Homo sapiens: one gene and its partners. The protein of the gene in region 5 interacts with the protein of the main gene of each other region in a pairwise test. Each region holds a gene or a part of one and is shown on either strand. Other genes may lie near its edges.

Region 1 (3,269 bases), on a different chromosome or scaffold from region 5:
ACGTTTTGTTGTGGCCAGGGACCCCTCCTTCCTGGGGAACTGTAGCCATTTGGCACTTAATGCACTGGCGCCAGCTGCGGGGTGCTCCATGTTCCATTTTGCCATGATGGTTTATGTCCCATGATCGCTTCCTCTGTACACTCCCTTCAGACTAGAGTTTGCACATCTGTGTTTGTGCACAGTTTAGCAGGGACCGTGGAGCTTTGCTTGGTGGCCGAGGGTGAGCCCCTCAAAGCCACACAGACTCCCTGGCCCAGAGCCTCACAGGCTTATGACACCCCAGGTTCATCCCAAACTTGGGCCTCCCAGGTCAGCTCACCCTTCTCCCTCTGGTGCTGTGTAGGGGCTGGGAGCTGCAAATGGGGGAGGGGGCTGCCCACCCTGAAGGGCAGCACCAAGGGTGGAGGGGCCAACCACACACCTGGTAGGCAGAGGCCCCACGCTCAGGGTCAGCGACCCGGCTCCTCCTGCTCCTTTCCCATGCCTTTGCCTGAGGTGGTCTCCAACACTTGAGTAGATGTCCTATGGCCTGTGGCCACGGGGGCCCTGAAGCCCTCAGACTGCAGCCTCCCTCCCGCCTGCCCCCTCCAGCTGCCCTGGGTCTGGGGCTGCAGCTTTGGCCCCACCTGGCCAGTCTTCCCCACCCCCACTCTCTTTCAGTGCCCCGCACCTTCTGGAATCCCCTGGAGACTTGCCGTGACAGTGGGGTGGGAGGATGGAGGAGGCTGGCGTCCTCCCCAGTGCAGACACCCCTTTGGCCTGGCTGCTCTGCTGGGTTGGTAAGGCAGGTGCCCATGGGTGAGGGCTGCTGCCGAGTCCCACCGCCTGCTGACGGGCTCTCATCCCTCCCAGTGCTCAGGCAGGCGCTGCGGCAGAAGCACCAGGAAGCCCAGCAGGCCTGCCGGCCCCATAACCTGCCTGTGCTTCAGGCGGCTCAGCAGCGAGAACTAGAGGTACTGGGGACGCAGGCAGGGTGGCCGGCCCAGCTCTCCTGTGGGCACCACCTGGCTCTGCTGACTGGGCTGAGCTGAAGGGGTGTGGGGGGCTCAGGTGTGGGTGGCTACCCTGGGCCTGAGTGGGACACTGGAGGCCTAGTGAGTCCCACCAGGTGGCTCCTCGCTGAGGGTGCCAGGTGTGCTGGGACTGGGTGGAGGGTGAGAACCCACCAGTGCTCCCCTGGAGTCCATTAGTGCCCCTCGTGGGTTGGGGTCTCCGCAGAGCAGGTGGCCTCGGGGGGTACAAAGGCAATGGTGGGGTGATGGGGCCAGCCAGGAAGGGGCCCATCCTTCTCCCCGGGAGCACAGGGACAACCAGAGACCGGCATGTAACCAACAAGTCATGGGGCAGGGTGTGCCTGCGGAGATGTGTGTGTGGTCCCAAGGCAGTCCCAAGTCAAAGCATTCGTGGAAGCCCCTTGGGGCCCCCTTCAGGGGTTCACTTGGCCGAGGAGAGGCCTGGGTGTGGTGAGGATGCATTGGTGGTGTCAGAGCTGGTGCTGTTGGGGACAGCAGCAGGAGCATGTGTTTGAGCTGCCCTCACCTCCCCCGCCGCCCCCGGCCCCACGGCAGGCGGTGGAGCACCGGATCCGTGAGGAGCAGCGGGCGATGGACCAGAAGATCGTCCTGGAGCTGGACCGGAAGGTGGCTGACCAGCAGAGCACACTGGAGAAGGCGGGGGTGGCTGGCTTCTACGTGACCACCAACCCACAGGTCAGTGCCTGGGCCTGCTCTGTCCTAGCCCGAGTGCCCCTGGGCCCCATTCCATCTGGGATTTCACTGCTGGTCCCTGGGGAGCCAGGCTCAGGGTATAGGGGGTGAAGTGGAAGGATTGAGGCTCTGGAAAGGATTTCTGTGCCATTCCCAGCATGGAGGCCAGGCCCATTCCCTACAGGGGGGTGAGCCAGCCAGCCATGGGCACTGCCCACCCTCCCCAGGCCTGCTGTGCCCCACAGGGCCCTCTTCTGCTCCCCTCCCGCATGCCATTCCAAGTGGCCCTGCTGGGTGCAGAGGCTCAGATTCCGAGTGGCCCTGCTGGGGGCAGAGGCTCAGATTCCGAGTGGCCCTGCTGGGGGCAGAAGCTCAGATTCCACCCTGTCGTAGCAGGCCATGACCAGGCTTCACAGGATGGTCGCCCCGTGGGCTCACTGCCTGGCACCTTTGGGCCGGGATGAAAGGGGCCTGGGGGTCACTCTGGCCTTCATGGGGCCCCTCTGTATCCCAGGAGCTGATGCTGCAGATGAACCTGCTGGAACTCATCCGGAAGCTGCAGCAGAGGGGCTGCTGGGCAGGGAAGGCAGCCCTGGGGCTAGGAGGTCCCTGGCAGTTGCCTGCTGCCCAGTGTGACCAGAAAGGCAGCCCTGTCCCACCATAGCCACAGGCAGCAGAAGTCTGGGCAGAGTTCATCTTCTTGACCTTTGGCCACTGCCTTCCCAGCTGCCCGCAGGGGGTTCCCCCTGCTGAGGAGAGACCAGGTGGACCCCAGCTGCCTGTCACCCTTCATCTGGGACTTGCTGTCAAACCCTAGGATAGTCTCATAAAGGGGAGGCTGGGCCAGCCTGCTGCTGTCTGCTTCAGGGCCAGGCAGAGAGTGAGGCTGGGGGTTCTCACACCTTACTCCACCGGGCACATCCCAACCTGCACTGGGGCCCACTCGAGCGCTTGTTCTGGTCTCAGCCGCTCCCTTGGCAGCTGCAGCCCCCATGCAGAAGAGGCTCCCAGGCCCAAGCTCTGTGTGACCCAGAGAAATAAAGATGCCTCAGTGTGGCCCGCATGTGGCTTGTGTGATAGCTGCAGGTTCTGCCATAACCGGGGCCCTGGTAGGGCCCCCACCTCTGTTGCAGCAGAGGCCTCTACCTGGGGGCCCCTTCCTGGGCTGTGTGCCCAGCCCACCACCCCTCCCCCTGCCTGGAGACTGGGACCCTCCAGCCTTTCCTGCCCCAGCCCTGGTCCCAGGATGCTGTCACTGCCATCTGTACAGGGGCCCCCATCCAAGCCCCAGGGCATGAGGACCACATCCAGCCTGCTTTGTGGGGCTGGGGGCTGGAGAGCATGGGAGAAGGCCCGAAGTGCAAGTATGCGCCTGCCGCAGCCTGGTCAGTGTCCTGTGGGAACCACTAGGAGGAGCCTGATGCAGGTCACTGGGGTAGAGGACTCAGGGTGGCAGGAATGGCCTGAGGAGGAGCCCTGCGGGGAGGCGTGCCAGGCCCACCTGGGGAGCTTGGCCTCTGCATCTGCATGAGTCCCCTCCGTGCTGGCCTGGGCCCATGGGCC
Region 2 (3,933 bases), on a different chromosome or scaffold from region 5:
CTGGCTGGGTTGGGGGAATCTCCTCACTCCACTGCCACAGAGCTGCCAAGTTCAGGCCTTTGGAGCAATAAACAGAAGTCAGGTGCACCTTAGTCTGGAAGATCCCTAAAAGAGTTAGTTCATCAGTCTTTAGTTTTTTAGTAGGATTAAACTTAGACCATCCTAATGAGATACAAATTGCCCGTTCAAGTGGAGACTGGTCTTAGACAAGGACCATCACTGCACCAGTCCCCTCTGCTCTTTCTTGCTGCAGTTGTGGTTTGCTGTTTGTTCATTGGGAGAATAAGGCCTTTATCTTCCTCTTTTCTCAGGATGTGGACAGTGCCTATATGAACAAGGTGGAGCTTCAGGCCAAAGTGGATGCCTTGATAGATGAGATCGACTTCTTAAGGACCCTCTACGACGCTGTAAGGATGTTACCTACTAAGAAGGGACAGAGGGAGAGTGAGGTGTTTCCAGATTTGAGGCTGGTGCATTTTGGTATATAGGCCCCAGAAGACATCTGGAATGAGCCTGGAGATGAGGACCCTTGGAAGGGATTCCACAGGATAAGCTGCAGACATGGGGTTCTCTGAGTGGCTGCGGACAGGGTGTGGCTGATACACATGTGGAGCAAGGAATCAGTGAATGAGACTGTTGATCAAGAGTCTTTCAGGGCCCTGTGTGCTTGTTACAGGGACCCCAAAAGTGAACAAGCTCCCTCTGTGTTGACAGGAGCTATCTCAGATGCAGAGCCACATCAGTGACACATCTGTGGTGCTGTCCATGGACAATAATCGCTCCCTGGACCTGGACAGCATCATTGCTGAAGTTCGTGCACAGTATGAGGATATCGCTCAGAGAAGCAAGGCCGAAGCTGAGGCCCTGTACCAGACCAAGGTGGGTGCTAGTCACCTCTTACGGGATCCACTGGAGGTTTCAGAGAGGCCATGGCCTATTGGACAGCTGGGTAGTGAGTTCCCAGTGGTCACTGGGTGAATGCCTTTTGGTTTTACCCTCTGAAGTCATCCTTCTAATGGTGGTTCAGTTGCAGAAAGTCTTGCCCCTGGGGGAGATGGTTGCCTGCTATGTGGGACTGACTCCAACTTGCTCAGGAACTACAGGGTAGGAAAATCTTCTACCACAACAACCCAGATGTTCTCTTTCCTGCTGCCTTGGGGGTTTCCCTGCTGAAACACAATGCAGTATCATTTTAGCAAATGCCTTACTGAGCTTCTGAAGGTTTGGTGGGTGATGTTGGAGGTGTAGAAACAAGTCAAGCAAAGCTGCAGGAATACCCCATCTTCCCTTCTGTTCTGCAGTTGGGGGAGCTGCAGACCACGGCTGGCAGGCATGGGGATGACCTAAGAAATACCAAGAGCGAGATCATAGAGCTCAACAGAATGATCCAGAGGCTGCGGGCAGAGATCGAGGGTGTCAAGAAGCAGGTGGGATGGTCATGGATGCTGGCACCTGGGATGATTGCTGAGGGGCAGGGGCTAGGATCTCAGGACTCCTCCCCTGGAATAGACGTCTGGAGGTCATCTCAGGCTGGCTGACCCACAGGGCAGTATCTCCACAAATGGAGACAAGATGGAGGCACTAGGGGAGGAGGAATGTTCCCTGACTTTAAGATGGGATAATCCATTGCATGTCAGGAAGGGCCTGGGGCCCTCTTACTGAGCTCATTCCTCCTACCTCCCTTGCCCCAGAATGCCAACCTGCAGACGGCCATTGCCGAGGCCGAGCAGCATGGAGAGATGGCCCTCAAGGATGCCAATGCCAAGCTCCAAGAGCTGCAGGCTGCTCTACAGCAGGCGAAGGATGACCTGGCGCGGCTGCTACGTGACTACCAGGAGCTGATGAATGTCAAGCTGGCCCTGGACGTGGAGATCGCCACCTACCGCAAGCTGCTGGAGGGCGAGGAGTACAGGTGAGCCTCCAGTCCCGTCTTCCCACACCCCCTGGCTCAAGTCATAGGCCAAGGGCCAGATAAGTGACCAAGTAACTGGGGATGGAGCCCTGCTGTATAAAGAGAGGCCTTGTGGTGAAGCATTTGCCTCTACCAGCCCACTCCCTCCCAGGGCACGTATGCAACCAGTGCCCACAGGCTCTCCTTGCTACAGCCCAAAGAGGGGTGGAGAAAGCTTACCTGATTTGCCAGGCTTCTCTGTTCAGCTCTGGTTGCTATTCATGCCCTTGGTCCGTGGACTTGTTGGTGATGTGCTTTGTGACGGGGCCCACTTTCTCTTGCTTTCTCAAACAGGATGTCTGGAGAGTGTCCGAGTGCTGTCAGCATCTGTAAGTACCGAAAGTAGCTAAGAAAATGAGAGTTAATTCTGAAATATCTGCACTAATCCAGGGTAGTAGCAACTAATTTAAACATATTTTTACGGAAGTTGGAGGGGTTTTCTGGGAGAGGAGAGGGAAGTGATTGGCTTTTGTAATTGTTCTGGGTTCAGGGCACTTTTAATAGGCTTCGACGGCCAATGTGGAATATCCAACAGGGGGCCTCTTGATAGGAGGATAAATTCAGACGCTAGATCCCCTCCAAGGGGGTCATCAAGACTGTACTGTGGGAGGAACCACTGGCTAATTCATAATGGCTTAACGGCAGGGGAGTGAGTAGCTAGTGGCCTTGGAACGGCTCGTGGTGAACATCCTGTGCAAAGCTGCCTTGATCAGCTCTGGATAGTCGTGGGCCCGGTGGATCATTGACAATAACATAGCAGCTGGCCTGGGCGCCGTCGCTGATCGCTGTCCTGTCCTCTCCCCCACAGCCGTGGTCAGCAGCAGCACGACTTCCGCCTCCGCAGGTGGCTATGGAGGAGGTTACGGCGGAGGCATGGGCGGTGGTTTAGGAGGTGGCTTCAGTGCGGGCGGCGGCTCAGGCAGTGGCTTTGGCCGGGGAGGCGGCGGTGGAATCGGCGGTGGATTTGGCGGCGGCAGCAGCGGTTTCAGCGGTGGCAGCGGCTTTGGCTCCATCTCTGGCGCCCGCTATGGAGTCAGTGGCGGGGGCTTCAGCTCGGCCAGCAACCGGGGCGGCAGCATCAAGTTCTCCCAGTCCTCCCAGTCCTCCCAGCGCTACTCCAGATAAAGAGCACGCATCAGCATCGCAGCCACTCCAGCGCCTCCCCTCCGCTCCCCACGCCCCCATATTGGCAACACCCCCAGCGCCACCCCATGCTCCCCAAGAACGCGGCTCTGCGCTGGAAGGCTTGTGGCCTCTTGCTCCTCCTTCCAGATCCCCGGCCAAGCCCAGTCACGAGAATTTCAGGCTCTTCTCTCCGGCTCCAGCCTGTGCCTGTGATTGTCCAGGTGTGGCCTAGGCCGCCACCTTCTGCTGCCCCGGAGTCCCCTCCCTGGGTGGGATGCTCACTACAGCTCTGATGTATATAGCACACAGCCCCCTCCGCCCCTCCGGTCTGTCGCCAATAAAGTGCACTGTGTTTCACTCCGGGCCTCTGAGTATTCGCTCCATGTCCTTCTCCTTAGGGCACTGAGCTCCCTGGTCACCTCCCTGGCCTCCCTGCCTCTGCCTCTCCCATGTGGGCTCTGTGATCCACAGAGCAGCTGGAGAACTCTTCCTCTGAAACAAAGGCAGTTCGTCTTCTCAGTCCATGGTGCGGATCCGGTTGTTCATTATTCTGTGAGCACCGTGGGGAGGGAGAGGTCCTGCTCCCCGACGCTGTTGTACCCTGTGTACCCTTACCGTCCTTAGTGGTGAAGGCTGGCCCATGCAGACATCTGTCTCCTCCCTGTCTTCTCTCATGTGGGGGAACTAAGAGGGCCTTGGGGACAGAGGGTTTCTTCCCTTGGTGTTGATTCTCACTCCAGCTGACATCGTGAAAGCTTTTCCCCCATCAAGGTGCTCCGGGAAAGTGCGGGCTGCTGGAAGCCCAGGGATGGAAATAGGCCCCAGAGCAGCCTATGTCAAAGTCTGACCCAGGAACA
Region 3 (4,085 bases), on a different chromosome or scaffold from region 5:
CCAGGCTGGTCTCAAACTCCTGACCTCAAGTGATCCGCCTGCCTTGGCCTCCCAAAGTGCTGGGATTACAGGGATGAGCCACTGTACCCAGCCCATCAAATCATAGCTATTTTCAAATCATCACTATTTTCATCTTATTGTTCTCACCAAAAAGGTGGTTTCATTTCTTCTGTACTATCTTAATAAGTTCTTTTGTGTATTGTGTTCCCTTCAGGTGACAGCACAAAACCTGAGACCGTAGAGCCTATCCCTTCTCATCTGGCCTTGCCTGAGGAAGTCTCACTCCAGGAACAGCTGGCACAGGGAGTCCCAAGATACTCCTATTTGGGGCAGGCCATGGATCAAGATGGGCCATCTGAAATGCAGGAATACTTTTTGAGACCAGGGACAGACCCACAGAGTGAGAAACTCCATGGGAAAATGAGCCTTGAACACGAAGGTTTGGCGACAGCTGATGGTATTTGTTCAATGATGATACAGAACCAAGTCTCACCAGAAGATGCTCTCTATGGATTTGACTCATATGGACCAGTTACAGATTCCTTGATTCATGAAGGGGAAAATTCCTATAAATTCGAGGAAATGTTTAATGAGAATTGCTTCCTTGTTCAGCATGAGCAGATTCTCCCTCGTGTGAAGCCCTATGATTGCCCAGAATGTGGGAAAGCCTTCGGCAAGAGCAAACACCTCCTTCAGCATCACATCATCCATACTGGGGAGAAGCCCTATAAATGCCTGGAGTGTGGGAAAGACTTCAACCGCAGGTCACACCTCACACGGCACCAGCGGACTCACAATGGAGATAAGCCCTTTGTGTGCAGTGAATGTGGAAGGACCTTCAATCGCGGGTCGCACCTTACACGGCACCAGCGGGTTCACAGTGGAGAGAAGCCTTTTGTGTGCAATGAATGTGGAAAGGCCTTTACCTACCGCTCCAATTTTGTCTTGCATAACAAGAGCCACAATGAGAAGAAACCCTTCGCATGCAGCGAATGTGGAAAAGGCTTTTATGAGAGTACAGCCCTCATTCAACACTTCATTATCCATACTGGGGAGAGGCCCTTTAAGTGCCTTGAGTGTGGGAAGGCCTTCAACTGCAGGTCACACCTCAAGCAGCATGAGCGGATTCACACTGGTGAGAAGCCCTTTGTGTGCAGTCAATGTGGAAAGGCCTTCACTCACTATTCCACCTATGTCCTGCATGAAAGAGCCCACACTGGAGAAAAGCCTTTTGAGTGCAAAGAATGTGGGAAAGCCTTTAGCATTCGAAAAGACCTCATTCGACACTTCAACATCCACACTGGAGAGAAGCCCTATGAGTGTTTACAGTGTGGAAAGGCTTTTACCCGCATGTCAGGGCTCACAAGGCACCAGTGGATTCATACTGGAGAGAAGCCGTATGTATGCATCCAATGTGGGAAAGCCTTTTGTCGGACCACAAACCTGATTCGACACTTTAGCATCCACACTGGAGAGAAGCCCTATGAATGCGTGGAGTGCGGGAAGGCCTTCAACCGCAGGTCACCCCTCACAAGGCACCAGCGGATTCACACTGCAGAGAAGTCCCACGAACCCATCCAGAGTGGGAACGTTTCTTGTGAGAGCACAGATCTCATTCAACACTCCATCATCCACACTGAGAGTAGCCCAGTGAGTGCAGTGAATATGGAAACGCCTTCAATTGCCGCTCATTCCTCCTCACTCGACATCAACGGATTCATAGTGGAAGAAACCCTACCATTGTAACAGATGTGGAAAGACTTTTTACGTACACTTCAGTCAACATCCAAGAATTCCTATTAGCGAAATAGTTTTTTAATATAACCACTGAAGAAAATCTGTGGTGAGAGGAAACATCTTACCATCTGGTCATTCATACTGAAGAGAAACTCCATAAGTATCATCTCTGTGGGAAAACCTGTTTTAGATCATCATTTGTCATCTAAACAATTATGTTAGAAATTGACACAGCCAAGAGTCTTATTCTACATCTGATAATTCACCCATGAAAGAGACCCAGTGGTTACTGTGCACTTAGGAAAACCTTCAGCCACATCTTTCTTATTAGTTTACAGTGAAATGTTATCTCAGGGACATTCAAACAAAGGAGGAGGAGTCATAGGGAAGAGAAAGAAATGGAAGCACAGCTTCTTTCAGACTTCCCTGACAAGCCCATGGCAATTTGTCATCCCCTCCTTATTTTATTTGGGAGAGGGAAATGTTTCAGAAACAAAAGGGCCTCATCCCCTTTATTTTCCCTGTGTATACATTCACTGCTGTCCAGTGCTGTAGACAAACGGTTTGTTTGAAAACATTTTGTGAAAGCCTGCTTTGTTCCACAGCATTGTCTCCACTCTTGAGGAGCAGAAGCATATATCTTTATGAGAAAGATGGAGGCTTGAGTTATGAAATACTTTTACATTTAAGGAGATAAAGGATGTACATATGAATGGGCACATTTTACTGCACACTTCAGACGCTTTGACTTTTTTAAAAAAATTGTTTCTCCGTGTGTCTTTAACCACCCAGTACCATACTTTTTTCTTGATCTGGATCTACTTGTCAATTTCTTCTTTATTTTTCTGTAGGATGGAGATGATATTGTAGCTGTTTGTACATAATGTAATCCAGGGAGTCCTAATTCTTCCCTCTGATTGTGGTTTCTCAGCTTTTTTACTGCTCTTTAGAGAGAGTAAATAGTTCAAAATTCACCTCAACAATTTTCTAGAGGTCAATTTGGAACCAAAAATGAAATAAGACATGTAGCTAAAGTAAGTTAAAAGATTATGATAAACTCAGAAAATAAACACAGAGAAGGAATCTCATTTTTCAGTCTTACAGAAGATTGTGTGAAGGCTGACTATACATAAAGTGACTGGAATTTTAACAGGTGAACCTGCATATGTATATGCAGGTAGTTGTCACCATGGATTGAGTCCAGTCGTAGTAATTAATATGTTTAATCAGAATATTTTGGAATTTCTCTTTTGGTATTCTTTTTGTTTCTTTTATTGTTTTTAATTGACAATGTTTATGGGGTTTGGTGTGATATTTCAATACATGTGTGCTAAGAGTAATGATCAAATCAGGGTAATTAGCATATCCATCTCAATCATTTATCATTTCTTTGTGTTTAGAAACATTCACAGTCTGCTTTTCTAGCTATTTGAAAATATAAAATGTATTATTGCCAATTGTACTCATTCTGCAGTGCCACAGAACACTACAACTTATTCAAATGGAATCTTACTTGCTGTAATTTTGTATTTGTTAACCAATCTCTATCTGCCTCTCTGCTGTCCTTCCCAGCCTCTGGTTACCACCATTCTCAACCTTTTATGCTTGCATATGAGTAGAAACATGGAGTATTTCTCTTTCTGTGTCTAGCTTATTTCACTTAATGTCTTTCAAGCTCATTCATGTTGCTGTGAATGACAGGTTTATTTTTCATGGCTGAGTAGTATTCCATTGTGTATATATGCCATGTTTTCTTTCTTCATTCATCTGATAATGGACACTTAGACTGATTTCTTAGCTATTATGAATAGTGCTTCAATAAACATAGGAGTGTAGATCTCTCTTTGACGTATAGATATATTTGTTTTTGCATATATGCCCAGTAGTGGTATAGATCATTACCAGTGGATCATATGGTAGTTGTATTTTTAACTTTTGTTTATTTTTCATTTTTTAAAATGGGGTCTTGCTGTGTTATTCAGGCTGGTCTCAGACTCCTGGGCTCAAGCAGTCCTGCACCTCAGCCTCCTGAGTAGCTGGGACTACAGGCACACACCACCGTGCCTGGCTATAGTTTTAGATTTTTGAGGAACATTCATACTGTTTTCCATATGGCTATACTAATTAGCATTCCTACCAGCCATATATAAGAGTTCCCCCTTTTCCATGTTCTCAGCAGCATTTTTTATTTTTTATCTTTGGTAATAGCCATCCTAACTGAGGTGAAATTATATCTCATTGTGGTTTTGATTTGCATTTCCCTGATTAGTGATGTTGAGCATTTTTTCATATACTTGGCCATTTGTATGTCTCCTTTTGAGGGATGTCTATTCACCTTATTTACCCAT
Region 4 (3,500 bases), on a different chromosome or scaffold from region 5:
AAGGTGGAAACCACCCAGTGTCCATCGAGGGACGAACGGAGAAGCAAAATGAGGTCCACCGACACGGCGGAATAGTATTCAGCCCTGAAATGGAAGGACATTCCGACGCAGGCTACAACATCACCCTTGGTAGAATAAGTCAGCCAGCCACAAAATGAAACTGGCCCGATGGTCCCCTGGAACTCACGTTCATGGTTTCTTTTGAATAAACATAGAAATGAGCCTGGCCGGTCTTAACATGTGAGAAAGTTTCATTTGTCTTACCTGAGTTCCTTTCTCAGGAAACCTACCATCAGGCCTCCCACATAGAATCAAGGAGCTGAAACGCACCAGATCACCGCAACTGGACAATGAGACGCCAGAGTCCTCGTTCATCACGCTTGCTTCCTTACCCTTCCCTAGTTCCCGTTTCCTGCACGGAGCTGCATTCCTTCCCTGATACGCAAGACCCCAACTTTAGTCAGTCAGGGAGTTGGATTTGAGACTGAGCCCCCACCTCCTCGGCTGCGGCACCCAATTAAAGCCTCTTCCCTGGCAATACTCATTGTCTCCGCGATTGGCCTTCTGTGTGGCAAGCAGCAAGACTGAGACCAAACCCCTGGTGTTTCAGTAACAAAAAGGACAAGCATGGCGTGTTCCTGCTCACGTGAGGGTCCTGGGACAGGCAAATCCATAGAGACAGGAAGTAGAATGGTGGCTGCCAAGGGCTGGGGAGGAGATGGAGAGTTAGTGTTTCATGGGGACAGAGTGTCAGTTTGGGAAGATGAAGAGTTCTGGAGAAAATAGAGATAGGGTCTCACTATGTTGTCCAGGCCGGTCTCAAACTCCTGGCCTCAAGCAATCCTCCCACCTCAGCCTCCCAAAGTGCTGGGATTACAGGTGGGAGCCACCATGCCCAGCTATAATTTTTTAGGTGGGGAAAAAAAAGGACAAGGACATGATGAAGTGAGATGAGGCCCTGCAGCTGCCCGAGACGACGAGTCCCAGCTACTCGGGAGGCTGTCAAGCAAACGGAGCCCGACGGTGGCCAGTGGGGGAGGGGCTGCCCTTGGGAAGGGGGTGGCATGGCGGGGCCAGCATGGGATGCTCACCCAGCGGCATACTCAGGACCTGCGTCCTTGTCTTACTGGACATTGACAGATGCAGCCCCTGGGCTGCCCTGTGACCCAGACTCCCGGGAAAGAATCCCAAAACGAGTGCCTTCAAGACAAAATGGAGCCAAAAGGAGCCAGAGGGAGGGGTCGGGTCCTGCAGAGAGGGGTGGGAGCTGAGCTCCCAGGGGCCAGCCTGAAGCCCCCAATACCAGCTGCCAAAGATACGCCAGGGGCAGCCCTGAGGGAGTCCAGGGTGGGACGCTCTGGTGGGTGGGAGCCCCTCCCTGGCCTCTGAGCCAGCTCCCCCTGCCCGCTGGAACCCAGGGCATGCAGGAGGCCTGGCCGTGAGCTCCTCACAGGTGCCTAGCGTGAGGCCAGGCCAGAGAGTGTTTGCCACTGGCCTGAAGCTGGGGCCTTCCACAGCCCTTCCTGGGCGAGAGCCAGGCTGGAAACTGTAGTGAGACCCAGGCGCAACTCCCCCAAGCAAAGTTGGGGGAGGTCTTCAGACCCCATGTGTGTGATTCACGATGCCCCAGGGGGAGGGGCCTCCAGAAATTAAAATACACAGTAGTCAAAGCAAAACAGAAACACAGAAAAGAACCTAAAAGTAAGCGCTGTGAGGAAGTGGGGAGATGGGGACCCTCACGCCGGCCGGGGGATGGGAACCAGGGCGGCTGCTGTGGAGAACAGGGTGCAAGTTCCCGAGAAAGCTGCACACAGAGGTGCACGTGCCCATGCAATTCACTCTCAGGTGTGCACCCAAGAGAAACAGCTCAAGGGCCAAAGCAGGTGCAAGCACCCATTCACGGCAGCGGCAGGTGGAGCCCGGGCATCCGTTGGCCACGAGGTTGTGAAGAAAAGGTCACCTGCCCACAGCCGGGCATTATTCAGCCACAGACTCAATGAAGTTCTGACTCAAGCTGCAACATGAATGAGCCTGGAAAACGTTATCTTGAATGAGCCTGGAAAACGTTATCCTCGGTGAGAGAAGCCAGACCCGTACTTGGTGATCCCATTTAGATAAAATGTCAAGAATAGGCAAATCCGGGCGGGGCGCGGTGACTCACTCCTATAATCCCAGCACTTTGGGAGGCCAAAGCAGGTGGATCACCTGAGGTTGGGAGTTCGAGACTAGCCTGGCCAATGTGGTGAAGCCCCGTCTCTACTAAAAATACAAAAAATTAGCCGGGCGTTGTGGCAGGTGCCTATAATCCCAGCTACTCAGGAGGCTGAGGCAGGAGAATCACTTGAACCTGGGAGGTGGAGGTTGCGGTGAGCCAAGATCGTGCCATTGCGCTCCAGCCTGGGCAACAGAGCAAAACTCCATCTCAAAAAAAAAAAAAAAAAAAAAAAAGAATAGGCAAATCCGTCGAGGCAGAAAGGAGACCCCCATGGCTCCCCCACAAGGGCTGCAGGAGGGGCTGCCTCCTGAGGGTGGGGGCTCATGGGGAGATGGAATGTTCCGGAACTCAGTAGAAGTGGTGGTTGCACAGCACACGGGGAAGGTGCTCAATGCCACGGAACGTGCACTTTAACGTGGTGGATTTAAGTTTGATGCGACTCTTGCCTCCATGAGAACAAGCACAGTGGTGACCGCCTCCTCCAAGCAGGCAGGTGGCACTGTGGGCGGGCAGGGCAGAGCCTGCCCCACCTGAGGAGCCTCTCGGTCATGAGGCAATGTCACGAGGGCCCCAGAACGCACCCAGAACTGTTCTTGGCCCCCCCCAAGGCCCCGCCCGGCATGTGCAGCACCCACACTTTCACACCCACCTGCCTGGGGCTTCCTGGCCCCCCAGCACCATGCCAGAGGTCACTTTGCTCCATTCCAGCACTGGGGACTCCAGGCTCCCGGAGGCTTCCAGGCCCTAAAGTAGAGGGCAATGCCATCAGAGCCCCCCGCTCGGGAAGACCACACGCCCCGTTCTCTCAGCCTCAGAGCTAGGCCTTGACCTCCCTTGGGGGTCTCAGGCTGCTTCCCCAGAGTCTTGCAGGAATCGGGGTCCCACTTCAGGGGCTGTGAGAGGCAAGGGGGTCCCTCCGGAGCCCCGTTGCACCCAGGGGCAAAGGCGCCCAGGTCTGACCCTGCACCTCACCAGGGCCTCCCCCAGGGAGGCATCCACAGAAGCTCTGGCTTTCTACAGGCAGTGGCAGCGACGCCACGAAGTCCCCAGCCCCCAGCTGCAGCCCTCGCCCGGCCACTCCCTGGAGGACACCAGGGGGCTGGAGGCAGCACCTGAGCGCCTAAGCCTCTGGCCCATGGCTGAGCCGAGTCCCCCCAACCCAACCCCAGCATGTACCCCGGACTGTGCAGAACTGGGGACAAAGGTCACGATGCCAGGGGTGGTCCGGGAGACCACGGGGACCGCCCTGCCGAGGACGGCCTCCCTCTGCTGCCGGTAGACCTCC
Region 5 (3,500 bases):
CAAGGAGACCAGCCAGCCTCTTGGTGGCAACTTGACTGCAATAGGTCCCTAGCACCTTGGAAAGGGCAATGCTGTATGCTTATCAGAATGGATATGAATTCTGCGTGTTTGCCTTTCCTGGCTGCACCACTATCTTAGGGCTCACAGAATCACTTATCTGCAGACATGAGAGAGACCCTGCTTAATAGTAAAGGTACCTACTTTATAGCAAAAGAGTATGGCAGTGGGGGCACGACCATGGTATCCACTGGTCCTAACCACACACAGCACTATCCAGAGGATGCTAACATGATAGAGCTTTGGGACGGCCTCTTGAGGGCAAAGCTGAGGCACCAGCTTGGAGATTATATCCTGTGAGGTTGGGGTGCCATTCTTCAGGATGTGGTATAGACTTTAAACCGATGGCTGTTTTATGGTTCTGTGTTTCCAATGGGTAGAATACATGGATCTGGGAACAAAAGGGAGGAAGTAGGAATGGCTTCACTCTCTATCACTTCTGTTAACCCACTTGGAGAATCTGTGCTTTCTGTCTATGTATCTTTAGGCTCTGTTGTTCTACAGGTCCTGGCTCTTAGAGGCGGAATGCTTCTACCAAGAGACCTGTAAGAGTCCCACCAAACTTAGAGCTTTGGCTCCCATGTGGTCACTTTGGGCTCCTCATGCCAACAGATCAGACACACAGAGTGGAGTTCCTATATTGGCAGAGGTAGCTGACCCTAAGTCATCCTGAAGAGTTAAGATTGCTACTGCATAACAGAGGCAGTGAGGAATGTGTTTGGTACTCTGATGATCCTCTGAGGCATCTTTTGGTACTCTCATGCCCAATTTTAATTTTAATTGGCAAATACAGAAACCATATCCTAATAAGGGCATGGACATTAGGGGCTCACCCCAAAAGAAAAGCCACCTGGATCAACAGAAGAGTTGGCTGACGGGGAGAGGAATCTAGAATGGGTGAGGCAGTGATAGGTGTCAGCGACCAATTGCAGCATGAGGGGCTGTGGCTTATCTCACTAACTTTCCTCTCAACAGTTTTTCCAGAAATTATGACCAGCAAGAATCGTGAAGAAGCTATGCCTGAATGGAAGCTATGGAAGAAGGTGGTTCTGAGTGGTGCAACAGGTTGACCATGGTGGTTGGTCCCCTACCCGGATCCCCTTCCCCAGGCTGATGCATCTCTCCTCTAGCTGGGTGGGTGTTGGCTACTAACAGCTCACAGCTGGCTCCTTTGGGGAACTGCCCTCCACCGAACTGGAGGCTCCTGCCTCACCTGGGAGGCTGCAGTCCCTCCTCTGCCCATTTGCTATCCTCTCTGAGGCAATGACTGATTGATGGACACAGGGGCGTAAAATACCAAACTTTTTGTTTGGTGAGAACAAATGCTGTGGTGCAATTCATGTGCCAAGCTTCCTGGGACACCAGGCTATACTAGTTTGTAGCTCAGACCACATCTTTGCTTAATTTTCCTCCCCTTCCCTAGCCTGTCTCCTTCACTCTCCTCCTGAAAATACTAAAATACTCCCTCGGTAAATCGCTTTCACAAGAATCTCATCTCAGATTCTAGGAAACCTGATCTCAGAGAGATGACTTCCTAGATTCTGGCCTGAGTGATTAGTGACACTCATGCCATTTACTGAGAAAGAGAAAAAGGTAAAGGAAGCCATTAAGAGTAAGATATTCTTTCTTTCTTTTTATGGATTGATTGATTGATTGATTGATTTAGAGACAGTGTCTTGCTCTATTGCCCAGGCTGGAGCACAGTGGTGCAACCACAGCTAACTCTTAACTTCCAGCTCCTGGGCTCAAGTGATCCTCCCACTTCAGCCTCCTGAGTAGGTGGGACTATAGGCACACACCACCACACCCAGCTCTTTTTTAAAAAAGTTTTTATAGAAACGGAGCCTCATTATGTTGCCCAGACTGGTCTTGAACTCTTGGGCTCAAGCAATCCCTCTTGCCTTGGCCTGAGATTGTAGGTGTGAGCCACAGCTCCTGGCCTCTTACTTATTTCTGATTCATCAGGTTCTAGCACAGATTCTAGGCCAGTGTGTTTTCAATAAAATTTTTTAGTTAGTTTATGAATGAAGAAAATGGATTCAATTTTGAATAATAATGAGTTTGAGGTGACTTGAGACTTAAACAGACTCAAGTAAACAGTGAGATATGTCAATCTAGGACTCAGAATATAGGTCTGAATCAGAGAGACAGACTTGGAAGTTATAGATGACAAGGCCATGAGATTGACTGAAATTATCCAAGATAGGCAAGTAAAAGGAAAAAAAGAAGTTAAAAGATGGAGCCCTGAAGAATCCTTCATGTCAGGCATCCACCCACATAGCATGTCCTTGACACTATCATCAATGAGAACTGCATTATTTACTAATTGAGATTTAAAGCAACCTATCCATCATCCTTCCAGCATGCTTAATCTAGTACTCCCACGCCAGCATTTCTCTGACCTCATTTAGACTCTTTACTTTTCACTATCCATCATCTTCCTCATACTCTCTCTTCCTAACTCTGCTTATTCCCGTCCATCTCATAACCATTCAGCAACTTGTCCCTCCCTGTATCTTGTCTCTATCCTCATTACCTGGTAAACCCCTGTATCTTGTCTCTATCCTAATAACCTGGTAAAACCCACCCCTAATTAAGCTGGCCCATCTGCCCGGGTCTTGCCTACACCTGAGCAGCTGAATGCTGGAGCCAACAGGTTGGGGGTAAATTACTGCATGGACTAGTTTCACTTTAAATTCATGACCATAAATATCATGTGGTCAGTGAACACTGCAAGGCGATTCTATTGCACTTCCCTAGTATGTTCACTTTCTTACTCATTACGTTGTGGCCTGGCTTCCTCCTAGGAGTCAGAGGGGAGCTCCCTCATTATTCCACATCCATTTGTATCTGTAGCTGAATTTTAGGCCATCCTCCTGTTTCAGAAACTCATCCTTCCTCCTATACTGCAGATCCTATTTCTTCTTACCTCTCAGTGACTTTGTTTCTGCAAATGAAAGAGGACCCTCCTTGAGCCCCATCCTCTTCATTATCAAACTTTCCTCCTGTCCTTCAGGATTCCCATTAGGTCACTCAATATTATGACCCAAGGCTTTGTATTGGGATGATTTCTTTTTTATACTTCAGTATTTTCATCCAGTTCTATAGACTTAAATACCAACCATATGCCGATTATTCCCACATTTGTATTTCCAGCTTTGATCTCTCCCTCGAATATCAGATTCACATATCCTATTGACTATTTAATGTCTACGTTTGGGTGTCTAGTAAACATTTTAAACTTATATGCCCAACCTAGAAATCATGATTACTCCTCTAACCCTATTTCTTCCCTAGTCTTCCCATGTCGGAAAGTGGTATTAGCATCTACTCAATGCTCAGGTTGAAATCCTAGGAGTCATCTTTAATCACTCTTTTCTCCCACTTCCCATAAACAATTCATTGTCAAGTCTGGTCTACACACCAGAATATTTCCTGGATCT
Region 6 (3,323 bases), on a different chromosome or scaffold from region 5:
TGGACACCCCCAACCCTGACTCCACAAGGACCCAGCAGGGCCCATGGGCCCAGGCCAGCACGGAGGGGACTCATGCAGATGCAGAAGCCAAGCTCCCCAGGTGGCCCTGGCATGCCTCCCCGCAGGGCTCCTCCTCAGGCCATTCCTGCCACCCTGAGTCCTCTATCCCAGTGACCTGCATCAGGCTCCTCCTAGTGGTTCCCACAGGACACTGACCAGGCTGCGGCAGGCGCATACTTGCACTCCGGGCCTTCTCCCATGCTCTCCAGCCCCCAGCCCCACAAAGCAGGCTGGATGTGGTCCTCATGCCCTGGGGCTTGGATGGGGGCCCCTGTACAGATGGCAGTGACAGCATCCTGGGACCAGGGCTGGGGCAGGAAAGGCTGGAGGGTCCCAGTCTCCAGGCAGGGGGAGGGGTGGTGGGCTGGGCACACAGCCCAGGAAGGGGCCCCCAGGTAGAGGCCTCTGCTGCAACAGAGGTGGGGGCCCTACCAGGGCCCCGGTTATGGCAGAACCTGCAGCTATCACACAAGCCACATTTGGGCCACACTGAGGCATCTTTATTTCTCTGGGTCACACAGAGCTTGGGCCTGGGAGCCTCTTCTGCATGGGGGCTGCAGCTGCCAAGGGAGCGGCTGAGACCAGAACAAGCGCTCGGGTGGGCCCCAGTGCAGGTTGGGATGTGCCCGGTGGAGTAAGGTGTGAGAACCCCCAGCCTCACTCTCTGCCTGGTCCTGAAGCAGACAGCAGCAGGCTGGCCCAGCCTCCCCTTTATGAGACTATCCTAGGGTTTGACAGCAAGTCCCAGATGAAGGGTGACAGGCAGCTGGGGTCCACCTGGTCTCTCCTCAGCAGGGGGAACCCCCTGCGGGCAGCTGGGAAGGCAGTGGCCAAAGGTCAAGAAGATGAACTCTGCCCAGACTTCTGCTGCCTGTGGCTATGGTGGGACAGGGCTGCCTTTCTGGTCACACTGGGCAGCAGGCGACTGCCAGGGACCTCCCAGTCCCAGGGCTGCATTCCCTGCCCGGCAGCCCCTCTGCTGCAGCTTTCGGATGAGTTCCAGCAGGTTCATCTGCAGCATCAGCTCCTGGGATACAGAGGGGCCCCATGAAGGCCAGAGTGACCCCCAGGCCCCTTTCATCCCGGCCCAAGGGTGCCAGGCAGTGAGCCCACGGGGGCGACCATCCTGTGAAGCCTGGTCATGGCCTGCCAGGACAGGGTGGAATCTGAGCTTCTGCCCCCAACAGGGCCACTCGGAATCTGAGCCTCTGCCCCCAGCAGGGCCACTCGGAATCTGAGCCTCTGCCCCCAGCAGGGCCACTCGGAATGGCATGCGGGAGGGGAGCAGAAGAGGGCCCTGTGTGGCACAGCAGGCCTGGAGAGGGTGGGCAGTGCCCATGGCTGGCTGGCTCACCCTCCTGTAGGGAATGGGCCTGGCCTCCGTGCTGGGAATGGCACAGAAATCCTTTCCAGAGCCTCAATCCTTCCACTTCACCCCCATACCCTGAGCCTGGCTCCCCAGGGACCAGCAGTAAAACCCCAGATGGAATGGGGCCCCGGGGCACTCGGGCTAGGGCAGAGCAGGCCCAGGCACTGACCTGTGGGTTGGTGGTCACGTAGAAGCCAGCCACCCCCGCCTTCTCCAGTGTGCTCTGCTGGTCAGCCACCTTCCGGTCCAGCTCCAGGATGATCTTCTGGTCCATCGCCCGCTGCTCCTCACGGATCCGGTGTTCCACGGCCTGCCATGGGGCCAGGGCGCGGAGGGGGAGAGGTGAGGGCAGCTCTGCCATCAGGGGGCGGGGAGGTGAGGGCAGCTCAAACACATGCTCCTGCTGCCGTCCCCAGTGGCAGCAGCTCTGACACCACCGGTGCATCCTCACCACACCCAGGCCTCTCCTCGGCCATGTGAACCCCTGAAGGGGGCCCCAAGGGGCTTCCACGAATGCCCTGGCTTGGGACTGCCTTAGGACCACACACACATCTCCACAGGCACACCCTGCCCCACGGCTTGTTGGTTACATGCCAGTCTCTGGTTGTCCCTGTGCTCCCTGGGAGAAGGATGGGCCCCTTCCTGGCCCCAACACCCTACCATTGCCTTTGTACCCCCCTGAGGCCACCTGCTCTGTGGAGGCCCAAACCCACGAGGAGCTGCTATCCAGGGGAGCACTGGTGGGTTCTCAACCTCCACCCAGCCCCAGCACACTTGGTATCCGCAAAGAGGAGCCACCTGGTGGGACTCACTAGGCCTCCAGTGTCCCACTCAGGCCCAGGACAGCCACCCATGCCTGAGCCCCCACACCCCTTCAGCTCAGCCCAGTCAGCAGAGCCAGGTGGTGCCCACAGGAGAGCTGGGCCGGCCACCCTGCCTGCGCCCCCAGTACCTCTAGTTCTCGCTGCTGAGCCGCCTGAACCACAGGCAGGTTGTGGGGCCGGCAGGCCTGCTGGGCTTCCTGGTGCTTCTGCCGCAGCGCCTGCCTGAGCACTGGGAGGGATGAGAGCCCGTCAGCAGGCGGTGGGACTCGGCAGCAGCCCTCACCCATGGGCACCTGCCTTGCCAGCCCAGCAGAGCAGCCAGGCCAAAGGGGTGTCTGCAGTGGGGAGGATGCCAGCCTCCTCCATCCTCCCACCCCACTGTCACCCAGGGCCGGGCCCTTATCTGGTGGCAAGTCTCCAGGGGACTCCAGAAGGTGCGGGGCACTGAAAGAGTGGGGTGGGGAAGACTGGCCAGGTGGGGCCAAAGCTGCAGCCCCAGACCCAGGGCAGCTGGAGGAGGCAGGCGGGAGGGAGGCTGCAGTCTGAGGGCTTCAGGGCCCCCATGGCCACAGGCCATGAGACATCTACTCAAGTGTCAGAGACCACCTCAGGCAAAGGCATGGGAAAGGAGCAGGAGGAGCGGGGTCGCTGACCCTGAGCGTGGGGCCTCTGCCTACCAGGGGTGTGGTCGGGCCCTCCACCCTCAGTGCTGCCCTTCAGGGTAGACAGCCCCTCCCTCATTTGCAGCTCCCAGCCCCCGCACAGCGCCAGAGGGAGAAGGGTGGGCAGACCTGGGAGGCCCAAGTTTGGGATGAGCTTGGGGTGCCATAAGCCTGTGTGGCTCTGAGGGGCTCACCCTCAGCCATCAAGTAAAGCTCCACGGTCCTTGCTAAACTGTGCACAAACACAGATGTGTGCAAACTGTCTGGTCTGAAGGGAATGTACAGAGGAAGCGATCATGGGACATAAACCACCATGAAACAGAACATGCAGCACCCCACAGCTGGCGCCAGTGACCAGTAAGTGCCAAATGGCTACAGCTCCCCAGGAGGGAGGGGTCCCTGGCCAAA
Region 7 (3,500 bases), on a different chromosome or scaffold from region 5:
AAACTAAAAATAAAGAAATAAGAAACTAGCCAGGCGTGGTGGCGCACGCCTGTAATCCCAGCTACTAGAGAGGCTGAGGTGGGAGAATCGCTTGAATCTAGGACACAGAGGCTGCAGTGAGTGGAGATCATAACATGGCACACCAGTCTGGTTAACAGAGCGAGACTCTGTCTCAAAAAAATAAATAATAAAAACATTTAAATTTTGTTTTAATTAACTGGGTGTGGTGGTGCACACCTGCAGTCCCTGCCTTTGCTCACATCCTTTTCCTTACCTGTGGAAATCTTTCTAGGCTGAATTCAATGGTAATGAATCTTTCGATGCTACCACCTCCACAAAGCCTTCCTTGTCCTCCCACCTATCTTTTTGTCCTCAGCTAGTAGTTATCATCTTCTAAGGTTTTACAAAGCACTGTTATTTTTTAGAGACAGGGTCTTGCTCTGTTGCCCAGGCTGGAGTGCAGTGGTGTGATCATAGCTCACTGCAGCCTGACCTCCTTGGCTTAAGCCATCCTCCTGCCTCAGCTTCCTGAGTAGCTGGGACTACAGGCGCAAACCACCACACCCAGCTAATTGTGTATTTTTTACTGAGATGTGGGTCTTGCCATGTTGCCCAGGCTGGTCTTGAACTCCTGGGCTCAAGCAATCTGCCCACTTAGGCCTCCCAACATTTTGAGAGTACAGGTGGGAGCCACCATGCCTGGCCAAAAAAAAAAATTTTTTTTAGAGATGGGGTCTCACTGTCACTCAGGCTGGAGTGCAGTGGCAAGATCTCAGCCCACTGCAGCTTGAACCTCCTGGGCTCAAGCAATCTTCCCACCTCAGCTGCCAAGTAGCTGGGATCACAGGTGCATGCCACTATACCCAGCTAATTTTTTGTATTTTTTGTAGAAACGGGGGTTTGCCATGTTGCCCAGGCTGATCTCAAACTCCTGAGCTCAGACAAGCTGCCCACTTTGGCCTCCCAAAGTGCAGGGATTACAGGCGTGAGCCACCATGCCCAGCCAAAAACTTTTTTTTTTTTTTTTTTTTTTTTGAGTCAGAGTCTCGCTCTGTCACCCAGGCTGTAGTGTAGTGGCGCAATCTCAGCTCACTGCAAACTTCGCCTCCTGGGTTCAAGGGATTCTCCTGCCTCAGCCTCCTGAGCTACTGGGATTACAGGCAACTGCCACCACGCCCAGCTAATTTTTGTATTTTTAGTAGAGATGGGTTTCACCACGTTGGCCAGGCTGGTCTTGAACTCCTGACCTCAGGTGATCCACCCGTCTCAGCCTCCCAAAGTGCTGGGATTATAGGGCTGAGCCACTGTGCCCGGCCCAAAAAAATGTTTTTAAAGAAGAAAATAAAAATATCCCACTAGTCAGAGATGTCCACTGCTGACCTGATATCTATCCTGTAGCCATGTCAACGTAGATAGAGATGCTTTTATGTTGTGAAGCATTTTGATTCGCCTCTTCATTTGGTAACTGTGTTAAGCATCTGCCTGGGGTCAGGCACAGTGAAGCTCTCGCCTTGTGCTGTGTGTGGCTGGGCCCACAGCACAGCATTAAGCCACCCTGTGCTTAGCCTGCTTGGCTGATGGGTGAGGACAGGCAGAGTGCGTAGCTGGCGATTCAGCGGCAGGGATGTTGCTGCTCTTTGGCCCTCCCAAGCTGCTAGCCTTGGTGCTGTTGGAGACCTGAGGGTTGGGAGGGCACCTGCTGGGTCCTTCTCTTGGGCAGAATCGTGCGGGCTGGGCCCTGGCAGTGCCTCCCAGGCACCCCTCATTTTGTGCCTCTTTGGGAAGGACGTGTCAGTGGCATAGTGTGGGAGACACTGGTGGGTTCATGCAGCTTCTCAGGGAGTGGCCAGGCGTGATCCTCAGGGCGGGAACCACGCTCTCAGTCCTGCCCTGGGCCCTACAGGAACGCTGGCGGGTGACTGCCGAGCAGTCCAAGGCGGAGTCCATGCAGCGCGCCCTAGAGGAGCAAAGGAAGGTCACGGCCCAGCAGATGGCCATGGAAAGGGCGGAGCTGGAACGGGCCAAGGTGAGTCAAGCCACCGCACTCAGCCCCTGCCCCTGCCATTATGCCCAGGGACACTCACCCCGTGCCTTCACCCCCACATCCCAGAGCGCCTTGCTGGAGGAGCAGAAGTCTGTCATGCTCAAGTGCGGGGAGGAGCGGCGGCGCCTGGCTGCCGAGTGGGCGGAGTTCTCCGCGCAGCAAAAGCTGAGTAAGGAGCGGGCCGAGCGCGAGGCCGAGCGGGCATTGCAGGTGGACACCCAGCGGGAGGGCACCCTCATCAGCCTGGCCAAGGTAGGGCCCAGAGCCTCCGGACAGTGGAGGGCCCAGGGTTGCCTGCGCCCCTCCATCTGGACACATCCGCTTCCAGTCTTAGGAAAGGAGAGTGTAGCACTAATGTCACAAGAGCATAGGGATTAAAACAGTAATCGCATCATCATGCTAACATCTTCCTCGTATTGTCCCAGGTGCATTATACACATTTTATTTGATCCTCATGTTCCCATGACTTTGGTCATTTAGAAATGAGGAAACCGAACTTCAGAGTTGAGCCTGCCACAGTCACGTGGCTTGTGAGGGCAGCACTCCGGCTTGGCCCCAGGCTTCTCTGGCTCTCCCTGGAAGCCCCTGGCTCCACCACCTCCTCCCAGGGGCAGGGTGGGCAGAGGGGACCCTAGAGTCCTGCACAGAGTGCAGCGCAATTCCTGGGAGGAGAATGCAGCAGGGCCTCCGCTGTCTCCAGGAGCAGGCTGAGCTGAAGATCAGGGCCAGCGAGCTCCGGGCCGAGGAGAAGCAGCTGGCAGCGGAGAGAGCAGCCCTGGAGCAGGAGCGGCAGGAGCTGCGGCTGGAGAAGGAGAGGATCAACGCCACCGCCCTGCGTGTCAAGCTCCGCGCCGAGGAGGTGGAGAGCATGAGCAAGGTGCTGCTCGGGCACATGGGCGTGGGCGCATCTGAGCCCAGGCAGCCCTGACCCAGGCGGCCTCCCTGCAGGTGGCCTCCGAGAAGTACGAGGAGGGGGAGCGGGCATTGCGCGAGGCCCAGCAGGTGCAGGCAGAGCAGCAGGCCCGGTTGCAGGCGGTGCAGCAACAGCAGGAGCGGCTGCGGAAGCAGGAGCAGCACATGCACCAGGCAAGGCTCCCTGAGTGTATGGCGCCCCTGCCCCCGGCACCCCCAGCCTCCCACCTCACAGCTGAGTCCTTCTTTCTGGGGGAACGGGGACAGGAGCATCTGAGTCTGGCCCAGCAGAGGCTGCAACTGGACCGCGCACGACAGGACCTGCCCTCTAGCCTCGTGGGTCTGTTCCCCAGGGCCCAGGGCCCTGCAGCCTCCAGCCAGAGTGGTGAGTGGCTCCAGAAGGAAGGGCCGGCGGCTCAGGACTGGGCAGGGGCAGTGCTAGGAGTGGGCAGGCCCTCCTCCAGCCGCTCCAGTTAAGGCGGCCAGCTGGGTTTTATAGTCGCCTTATTTCTTTTTTACACAAATAATGTGTGTTAATTTTAGA

Evidence for each region.
Region 1: the proteins of DEUP1 (region 5) and DGCR6 interact in a two-hybrid assay, tested with the Homo sapiens proteins (one large-scale study listed by BioGRID).
Region 2: the proteins of DEUP1 (region 5) and KRT3 interact in binary tests that used the Homo sapiens proteins (3 or more experiments, as listed by UniProt).
Region 3: the proteins of DEUP1 (region 5) and ZNF460 interact in binary tests that used the Homo sapiens proteins (3 or more experiments, as listed by UniProt).
Region 4: the proteins of DEUP1 (region 5) and CCDC187 interact in a two-hybrid assay, tested with the Homo sapiens proteins (one large-scale study listed by BioGRID).
Region 6: the proteins of DEUP1 (region 5) and DGCR6L interact in binary tests that used the Homo sapiens proteins (3 or more experiments, as listed by UniProt).
Region 7: the proteins of DEUP1 (region 5) and FBF1 interact in binary tests that used the Homo sapiens proteins (3 or more experiments, as listed by UniProt).

What each region holds. Positions count from the first base shown.
Region 1 is NC_000022.11:18,909,320-18,912,588, forward strand, and holds the end of DGCR6 (protein DGCR6), read left to right. Parts: intron 1-660; coding exon of another isoform or gene 661-779; intron 780-852; coding exon 853-953; intron 954-1,568; coding exon 1,569-1,709; intron 1,710-2,220; coding exon 2,221-2,370; 3' UTR 2,371-2,769; downstream 2,770-3,269. UniProt on the Homo sapiens protein: May play a role in neural crest cell migration into the third and fourth pharyngeal pouches.
Region 2 is NC_000012.12:52,789,185-52,793,117, reverse strand, and holds the end of KRT3 (keratin, type II cytoskeletal 3), read left to right. Parts: intron 1-311; coding exon 312-407; intron 408-714; coding exon 715-879; intron 880-1,301; coding exon 1,302-1,427; intron 1,428-1,691; coding exon 1,692-1,912; intron 1,913-2,245; coding exon 2,246-2,280; intron 2,281-2,759; coding exon 2,760-3,076; 3' UTR 3,077-3,433; downstream 3,434-3,933.
Region 3 is NC_000019.10:57,290,485-57,294,569, forward strand, and holds the end of ZNF460 (zinc finger protein 460), read left to right. Parts: intron 1-214; coding exon 215-1,746; 3' UTR 1,747-3,585; downstream 3,586-4,085. UniProt on the Homo sapiens protein: May be involved in transcriptional regulation.
Region 4 is NC_000009.12:136,287,095-136,290,594, forward strand, and holds part of CCDC187 (coiled-coil domain-containing protein 187), read right to left. Parts: coding exon 3,392-3,500; intron 2,960-3,391; coding exon 2,865-2,959; intron 227-2,864; exon of another isoform or gene 1-226.
Region 5 is NC_000011.10:93,431,742-93,435,241, reverse strand, and holds part of DEUP1 (deuterosome assembly protein 1), read right to left. Parts: intron 3,005-3,500; coding exon of another isoform or gene 2,990-3,004; exon of another isoform or gene 2,737-2,989; intron 449-2,736; exon of another isoform or gene 202-448; intron 1-201. UniProt on the Homo sapiens protein: Key structural component of the deuterosome, a structure that promotes de novo centriole amplification in multiciliated cells.
Region 6 is NC_000022.11:20,313,738-20,317,060, forward strand, and holds the end of DGCR6L (protein DGCR6L), read right to left. Parts: intron 2,483-3,323; coding exon 2,382-2,482; intron 1,740-2,381; coding exon 1,599-1,739; intron 1,088-1,598; coding exon 938-1,087; 3' UTR 501-937; downstream 1-500. UniProt on the Homo sapiens protein: May play a role in neural crest cell migration into the third and fourth pharyngeal pouches.
Region 7 is NC_000017.11:75,913,543-75,917,042, reverse strand, and holds part of FBF1 (fas-binding factor 1), read left to right. Parts: intron 1-1,903; coding exon 1,904-2,026; intron 2,027-2,110; coding exon 2,111-2,296; intron 2,297-2,744; coding exon 2,745-2,921; intron 2,922-2,992; coding exon 2,993-3,130; intron 3,131-3,223; coding exon 3,224-3,341; intron 3,342-3,500. UniProt on the Homo sapiens protein: Keratin-binding protein required for epithelial cell polarization. Involved in apical junction complex (AJC) assembly via its interaction with PARD3. Required for ciliogenesis.